Regions from separate parts of the Homo sapiens genome. Here region 1 is linked to region 2. The links come from fine-mapping of genetic effects on gene expression. A gene starts in region 2. The other region holds a variant in brackets. All regions are shown on one strand. Distances are from middle to middle. Region 1 has its middle 22 kb from the start of METRNL. Region 2 holds the start of NARF (nuclear prelamin A recognition factor).

What was found. PIP is the estimated chance that this variant, and not a neighbour inherited with it, causes the effect. A credible set is the group of variants that fine-mapping cannot tell apart.
Region 1: its variant is the best candidate, but not a certain one, in a credible set for the expression of NARF in ileum (GTEx, PIP 0.61).

Annotation. Positions count from the first base shown.
Region 1 is chr17:83,099,668-83,104,042 of GRCh38, forward strand. No RefSeq gene overlaps it. Among named protein-coding and RNA genes, the nearest start is that of METRNL, 22 kb to the left of the region's middle. The variant C/T (reference allele first, on the strand shown) is at 2,362.
Region 2 is chr17:82,457,099-82,461,442 of GRCh38, forward strand. NARF (nuclear prelamin A recognition factor) reads left to right here and starts at 1,643. Exons shown (of 11, transcript NM_012336.4): 1 at 1,643-1,732; 2 at 2,894-2,974. The coding sequence starts at 1,706. NARF-AS2 (NARF antisense RNA 2) reads right to left here and starts at 1,421. Exons shown (of 3, transcript NR_184099.1): 1 at 575-1,421; 2 at 340-450. RefSeq lists enhancers at 982-1,131, 1,565-2,397 and a silencer at 1,162-1,981.

The sequences.
Region 1 (4,375 bases), 640 kb after region 2:
CCCACCTGAGGAGCGGCCTGGGGCCTGATCAGCCCTGCTGGTGTCTGGCCTGCAGCCAGCACCGGCTCTGCTATTCACACTTGGTTACAGGTGGGTGCCCATCCCAGCAGCCTCGGAGCAGAGTGGGTCGGGCTCCGGAGGTGGGGGCGGCCACTAACAGCAGGAGGTCGTGGCAGTGCGGCTATGGCAGGGGTTCTGAGGGGCGGAAGGCAGGGGCGGGACGTGGGGACGCAGACCTGCAGGGAGGACGCCGGCTCACCCAGCAGGGAGGGGATGGCCGCCCAGGGACCCCCAGCCTGCCCGCTCTGCTTCCCCGACCGCCGGGGCAGGGGCCCCACGGGGGACGCCAGGGAACGTGAGGAATCCGGAGTCAACACTGGGCCACTGTGTGCTGCCAGCCGGGCGGGCCGTGATTTATAAAGACAGCGGAGGCTTGGCTGGTGTCGGGGCGGTGAGGTCACGGCGGCCGGGGGCTCTGGAATTTCTTCAGAAGAATTTTGCTTACCAAGCCACATACTTTTCTAGCCATCAGTTTGATCAGAGGCAAGATGAAAAATATGCTAAAAAACAAAGAAACAAAAATACACCCGGGGGGCTCCGGTGAGGGGGAGGGGCGCTGCGGGAGGGGTGGAGGGCCCAGGGAAGGGTGAGGGGCCGGGAGCCACTCTGCCCGGCACTCTCCGCCCAGAAACAGCCCAACGCCCCTTTCTTTCCCCTTTTAGCACTGCTGAGCTGGACTAAAATGCCCAACAAGGAACTTTACTAAAAACTGAGGCAAGAAAGAAAACACACATGACATAAAAATAGTCAAGGGCACATTCTTGATGGTAGATAACTGGTCTCTGGCCACAGCGGCTGCCAGGTTGGGTGTCGGCCGGCGGGTCTGCCAGTCCCACCCATAGGCACTGCACTTCCCTGGGCCGGACAGGGGGTGTGGCGGGTCTGTGGGCGGGGGGACAAGGTTGGCAGGACCGTGAGGGGGGTGGTGGGTCTGTGGGAGGGGGACAAGGTTGGCAGGACCGTGAGGGGGGTGGCGGGTCTGTGGGCGGGGGGACAAGGTTGGCAGGACCGTGAGGGGGGTGGTGGGTCTGTGGGAGGGGGACAAGGGTGGCAGGACCGTGAGGGGGGTGGCGGGTCTGTGGGAGGGGGGACAAGGTTGGCAGGACCGTGAGGGGGGTGGCGGGTCTGTGGGCAGGTGGACAAGGGTGGCAGGACCTGTGAGATGATGTGAGTGCAGCACAGTGGGGCTCTGTAAGAAGCGACCCGGGCAGCTTGAGCAGGGGCAGGCTGGGCGGTGCCTACGGGTCTCTGTCCACCGGAGCCTCTGTTCAGCCCACCTCAGTGTCGCTCCGGATGTGGATAGAAGGAGACACTGTCTGGGCCACAGACCAGGTGCTTCCTTCGTCCTGACCACACCTGCTTCTGCCCAGGAGACGCTGCAGGGGCTGTGCTCCCCGCCCGGCTACTCTTGAGTGGTCCCCAGGCTCCTCCTCCTCCCGGTTCCACCTGGAGCCGTGGGGCTGTGCCGGGGATGCCTCGCTGCAGCTGCAGCTCAGGGAGAACTCACTGCTGGAGCTTCTGCCTCTCCCGTGCCGTGGGGCCGAGCCGAGCTCCACCAGGGTCTGGACTTCTGCACGGGCAGCTGTGCTTCCCAGGGTCGTGGAGAGGGGTCCTTGGTCCCAGCCACTGTGTGACCTCGACCAGGACACTTGACTTTCCTGCCCCCAGAGGGTCTTGTCTGGACCTCCAGAGCCCCCAGCCTTGCTCACTTGGCTCTGCTTCTGGGCAGGGTGCCCTGGCATTGCTGTTGCTGGCACCTGCCGTGCCTTGGAGGGGTCTCCAGTGGGACCTCTGAGCACGGCTCTTCCTGTACTTCTCAGAGGTGAGCAGAGGGCATTTGTGGGAGAACTGGAACCTGGGGAGGAAAAACCCCAAGGCTGGCAAAGACTCCCTGCAGTCTGTCCAGTGATCCACTGAGGCTGAGTGGTGGAGGACATGGAGGCCGGCCCGGGACCAGGACATGGAGGCCGGCCAGGGACCTGGGGAAGAGAGGGCCTCAGTCTGGTGAGACCAGCCTGGTGGGTGCCTGGGGAAGAGAGGGCCTCAGTCCTGTGAGACCAGCCTGGTGGGTGCCTGGGGAAGAGAGGCCCTCAGTCCGGTGAGGAGACCAGCCTGGTGGGTGCAGGCCACCCTTGCCTGCTGTCAGGGCCTGCCCTTCTCTCCGGCCTCCAGCTGCTTTGCCCCAGCGATCAGGCGCCTGAGCTTCCTCCCCCGAGCCTGAGTCCAGCTGAGCTCCGTGTGGCTTTCCCGGTGGAGCAGACTCTGTCTGATTTCCCAACGGCTGGCGCCTCCCAGGGCGTG[C/T]TCCTTGCCACGGAACAGCCCCTTGGGGCCAGGTGTGTACTCCAGGCAGTGGCCCGGCAGTGCTGGGAAGTGCCGGTCATGGCTGCTGCACGTGGGTTGCTGTCTGGGAGAGTCCTGTGGTGTTTGCTGAGGGCGGAGGACACCGAGGACAGAGAATGGGCAACTTCCAGGGAGGGCCCAGATGCAGCCACGACTGGGGTGCATCTGGGATACCTCGTCCAGGGACACTCCCCACCATGGCCTGGTGCCTGTCCAGCAGGAAGAGCTTCAGGGCAGTAGGAAGGGGGAGTGGCCCCAGCTGCAGAGGGAAGGAGCTTGGTGGCAGGGCGGCAGGAGGGATGGGAGGTCAGGCTGACGTCCACTGGCGAGAACACTTCAGATGAAGATAGTGTGGACCCCTGCCCAGTCCCAACACAGGCCCCAGACGCCCTGAAACCCCAGGGGCTCAGCCCAAAGCAAGGGCAGGAAGCATTGCTTTACTGAGAAACCATAAAAATGTAGAATTCCACCTCAAACGCTGCTGTGGCCGATACTGAAGGTTAGAAATGAGCCGGTGGGGCCCGACACGGTGGCTCACGCCTGTAATTCCACCACTTTGGGAGGCCGAGGCAGGCAGATCATGAGGTCAGGAGATCGAGACCATCCTGGCTAACATGGTGAAACCCCGTCTCTACTAAAAATACAAAAAGAAATTAGACGGGCCTGGTGGCGGGCACCTGTAGTCCCAGCTGCTTGGGAGGCTGAGGCAGGAGAATGGTGTGAACCCAGGAGGCGGGGCTTGCAGTGAGCTGAGATTGCACCACCGCACTCCAGCCTGGGTGATAGAGCAAGAAAAAAAAAAAAAGAAAGAAAAGAAATGAGCAGGTGGGTGCTTCCCAGGGGGGCCCCGTGGCCTGTCGGCCCCATGCATGATGGCCCTCAACTCAGCCACAGCTCCCAGGGCAGCTGTGGCTCCTTGGGTGGCCCAAGACAGCTGCTGCGTGGTGTGAGCTTCGCTCATGAGGCTGGGCAGAGGCTGGGATCCCAGGTGTGAAGATGGGCCTGGGTGGTGGCTGCTGGACCTTGTTGTCACAGATGTGCCACCTGCTTCCCAAAACCGAGCACCAGGGGTCTGAGAGGTTGCTATGGGAAGGTCGCTTGCTCCAGGGGGCCCTGGAACAGTTGCTAAGTTTAACGCCCTGGCCCAGGATCCACCTGTCCTGCTGCAGACCAGCCCTGCTCATTCCTCCCTCTGGCTGTGAAGATGGAAGCCCATGGGTTGGATGCCTCGGGCCAGGGCTGTCACGCAAGGAAGCCTGGGGAGGACTGTGGCACTGACCCCATGGGCCATGGTATCGCCTCAGGGCCCTGCCCCTCTGATGTCCGTCTCCTCGGGGCCCCGCCCCTCTGGATCTCGTCTCCTCAGGGCCCCGCCCCTCTGGATCTCGTCTCCTCGGCGCCCCGCCCCTCTGGATCCCTGTCTCCTCGGGGCCCCGCCCCTCTGGATCTCGTCTCCTCGGCGCCCCGCCCCTCTGGATCTCCGTCTCCTCGGCGCCCCACCCCTCTGATCCCCGTCTCCTCGGCGCCCCGCCCCTCTGATCTCCTCTCCTCGGGGCCCCGCCCCTCTGATTCCAGTCTCCTCGGCGCCCCGCCCCTCTGGATCTCCGTCTCCTCGGCGCCCCACCCCTCTGATCTCGGTCTCCTCGGCGCCCCACCCCTCTGGAGTTCCGTCTCCTCGGGGCCCCGCCCCTCTGGATCTCGTCTCCTCGGCGCCCCGCCCCTCTGATCTCGGTCTCCTCGGCGCCCCGCCCCTCTGGATCCCCGTCTCCTCGGCGCCCCGCCCCTCTGGATCTCCGTCTCCTCGGGGCCCCGCCCCTCTGGATCTCCGTCTCCTCGGGGCTCCGCCCCTCTGATCTCCTGCACGCACCCGGCCTCGCCTGAAAAGCCCCACGTACAGCAAAGCGGCCGTGTCTTGGTGGCCTCTGCCTGGGGCGCTATGGGTGGCCTGTCTATGCCTCAGTTTCCCCATTCTTGA
Region 2 (4,344 bases):
GCCAGGTGTCAATTAAACTCTTTTCCCGGCCTGCTGCAATCTTGATGAATTGACTTTTTGTCTGTGCAGTGGGCAGGAAGAACCCGATGGGCAATGGCAAGCTGAAGAATGATGAGATTCATAAATCTGGAAAGGAGAGCTTTACTTCTCATAAAGGGTTTCAGCCTGCAGGGTGGCCATTCTGACAGACAGGGAAGCACTGCCTCTGGCCAGAAGCCAGAAACAGACACTTCCAGGGAGGGGCAAAGGGAACAGGAATCTATGAGGTGCAGTGTGTAAATATACATATTTATCAAGCTACAGGAGAAGTCATGAATATTTTTGAAGAGAGAAACATACACAAACACAATGAAGCTTCAGGCCCCTTCACGAGGGTCATGTCATCTCACCAGAACCACTCCATGGTCAGTGTCTCTTATCAGTAAGGAATACTGGTCAATTGGGCCGAAACTGCAAATGAGAGAGTTGTTATCAGCGGTGGAGTCTTTCGAAAGCGCTGGTTTCCGTTAAGCTCTTAGCCAAGAAAACCTAATGGTAGTTAGCCAAGGGTTGGCCTTAATAACAGGTGTCTCACCTCCCATCTGTCATGGCTGAGAACTGCCTTCAAGGCAACCCTGGGATCTCCTTAGCCAGTAGGGGGTTCGTGTAGTCAGTTGGGGGTCTTTGGATTTCATTTTCATTTCTCAGAGGACAGGAAGGAAGGCTCTAACATGGGGAATCCTGAGAACTGCTGCTGTCTGTTAAATACGCCTACAAGTTATTTTTCTTATGTCACACTCTCCCAGACATGTTCTTACTTCTCATTTCTGATTTCTGTAATACACACACACTGATTTCATAAAACGTTTATGAGTCCAACACTTCCATTATAGCCCTGTATCAATGTTTTGCTTAGCTGAAATCAATTTCTTGGAGGAGTAAGTGTTATCTTTACTTTGTAAGCTGTAAGGGCCCAAATCAATGTACTTGGTAAAACTATCCATAGTGAACACACGCAAATGTCAAATGGCCATCATTTAGCATCTGCCCTCGGGCTTCCGGGTCCATCACGTGGTTACTGACAGGCAGGCCGCGCATGCGCGCTGCTACTCCGCCGAGCCTACGTGACACGACGTCAAGTGGCAATGGCGGCGGACGAGGGCTGTGCCCCCGGCCCGCCCCGTTAGGAGCCGCGAGTAAGGCGAGTGTCCAACGCCGAGCTGGCTGACAGAGCCCGGCCGCGGCCTCCGCGGGCCCAGGGGCCTCCAGGCCCCGTGACCACCGGACCGAGCACCCTGGAACGGCCCCAGCTTGGCCTCGGGACAGTCCGCGCGCTCACCGACTCCCTGGTGAACGCCGCTTGGCCGCCGCCGCCGCCGCAGGACCCACGAGAAGCGGAAACCGGCGCAAGGACCCGGTCCCCCCGGCGCCGTACGTGGAGTGAGCCTGCGGTCCGCCCCGCGCGCTCCGATTGGCTCTGGGGCCTGGCCCGCCCCTTCCCGACACTGTCATTGGCCTAGGCAAAGCCGTAAGGGTGGGGAATCCTATTGGCCCAGGGGTGCGGCTTGTCCTCTCCCGGTGCTCTCATTGGCCGAGCGCGGCCGTTGGGGGTGAGGCCGCGTCGGGGGAGGACAACAAAGGGCCGCGGGCGGCGGGCAGTGGTGTCCCAGTCTCCCGGTGCTTCCCTGAGGCTGAGGCGCCCGGCCTCCCGCCCGCCGCGCTCCAGATGAAGTGTGAGCACTGCACGCGCAAGGTGAGCGCCGCGGGCCGGGGAGGCGCGCGCCTGGTGCTTGTCCTGTGGGGCTCTGGGCGGCCGAGGTTGGCGGTCCGGGCCCGCCGCTCGCTCGCTTCAGGGCTCTTCAAGGCGCCCCCGGCCTCGGCACCCTGGGCCCGCTCGGCGTGGAGGCGGCCGGCGCGGGGTCCGCTGCGCTCTGCAGGGCGGGTTCGGTCTTCGCGGTTCTCCCTGAACTTGTCCATCTTTCCCACGCCCGCGAAGCGCGGAAACGCACGGAGACCGAGCCTCTCGTGCCGCGCACCACAGTCCGAGTAAACAGCGGTCGTGGCGGGAATGATCAGAAGCGTTTCGAGAGGGTTTTAGGCGTTTTCGAACCTGCCCCTCTGAGGGTCACCGAGCAGCCGGTGCAGGGGCGGAAGCGGGTGACGGCTGCTGACCGGCGCCTTCCGCGGTTGTCTCCAGGCCATGGCAACAACCGCGCAGCGCACGCAGGGGGGTTTTGTAGCTGTTATTGCCGGAATGGGCTCCTGTGGATGCTGCTCTGTGGCTGGCACTTCTGCGCGTGACGCCGTGGCAGGAGGCTTCCTAACATTCCATGGGTCGTTCATCCCCGGTGGTGGCTGCGTCCTATTCTAAGTACACCTGTGTCCAGGGGAATTCGCCTGTGGGGTGAAGGCTACAGTTGCTTCTGCTTTTTTATTATTGTAAACAATAGAGATGTGTGTGTGTCCTTCAGTACCTGTTTCACTAGAAGGGTTAGAAGGATAGAAGGCCAGGCACGGTGGCTCAAGCCTGTTATCCCAGCACCTTGGGAGGGGAGGCCGAGGCGGGTGGATCACCTGAGGTCAGCAGTTCAAGACCATCGTGGCCAACATGGCGAAACCCAGTCTCTACTAAAAATATAAAATTAGCTGGGTGTGGTGGCGCACACCTGTAATCCCAGCTACTCAGAAGGCCGAGGCAGGAGAATCGCTTGAACCCGGGAGGTGGAGGCTGCAGTGAGCCGAGATTGCGCCCCTGCACTCCAGCCTGGGTGAGAGCGAGACTCCGTCTAAAAAAATAAATAAATAAACTAAAAGAAAGGATAGAAATACATGAGCTTCATTGGTCAGAATGTGCACATTTTCTTAAGGGAGACGAAGTAAAAGTTCATTGATAATGTTCCTTTGCTTTTTTAAGGAATGTAGTAAGAAAACAAAAACTGATGACCAAGAGAATGTGTCAGCCGATGCACCGAGTCCAGCCCAGGAAAATGGAGAGGCAAGTAGATTTTTCAGTTTTGTATCAGCCCAGAGTAAACTACTGCTGCTGTTTTTCTCTTTGGGGGCTCACAGCACCGTGCACATCACTGCTTTAAAGAAGACTGAAGTACGCGGGCATGGTGGCTCACGCCTGGAATCCCAGCACTTTGGGAGGCCGAGGTGGACGGATCACTTGAGGTCAGGAGTTTGAGACCAGCCTGGCCAACATGGTGAAACCTTATCTCTGCTAAAAATACAAAAATTATCCAGGTATGGTGGTGTACGCCTGTAATCCCAGCTACTCAGGAGGCTGAGGCAGGAGAATTGCTTGACCCTGGAAGACAGAGGTTGCAGTGAGCTGAGATTGTACCACTGTACTTCAGCCTGGGCAACAGAGTGAGACTCTGTCCCAAAAAAAAGACTGAAATAGGCCAGGCGTGGTGGCTCATGCCTGTAATCCCAGAACTTTGGGAGGCCGAGGCAGGCGGATCATGAGATCAGGAGATTGAGACTATCCTGGCTAACACAGTGAAACCTCATCTCTACTAAAAATGCAAAAAATTAGCCGGGCGTGGTGGGGGGCGCCTGTAGTCCCAGCTACTCGGGAGGCTGAGCCAGGAGAAAGGCGTGAACCTGGGAGGCGGAACTTGCAGTGAGGCAAGATCGCGCCACTGCACTCCAGCCTGGGCAACAGAGTAAGACTCCGTCTCCGAGACTGAAATAAACTTGAAGGGGCTAATAAAGACATGTGTGAGACAGTCCATCAGTGGCACAAGGCCTGTCTTCTCAGAACACACTACACCAAAACACACTGCATTGGGAACAAAGAAAACGTGGTGTAATACTGGATTTCTTCTTTTAATTTTTTTTTTCCCCTTTTGAGACAGGGTCTCACTGTCACCCAGGCTGGAGTGCAGTGGCTCACTGTATGGCTCACCGCAGCCTTGACCTCTGAGGCTCAAGTGATTCTCCTGCCTCAGCCTCCCTAGTAGCTGGGACTACAGGTATGCACCACCATGCTCAGCTAATTTATTTTTATTTTTATTTTTTGGTAGAAATGGAGTTCCACTATGTTGCCCAGATTGGTCTTGACCTCCTGGGCTCAAGTGATCCTCCTGCCTCAGCCTCCCAAAGTGCTGGGATTACAGGCGTGAGCCACTGCACCTGGCCTCTCTTCTAATTCAGTTCTTGTTTTTAAATTCTCCTTAGCTAGTAGCTATGGTCTCTGTTTATTGGATACATAACCTGAGCCTGGCTCTCAAGAATGTGATTTTACAGCCAGGCATGGTGGCTCACACCTGTAATCCCAACACTTTGGGAGGCCGAGGTGGGTGGATTACCTGAGGTCAGGAGTTCAAGATCAGCCTGACCAACATAGATAAACCCCAT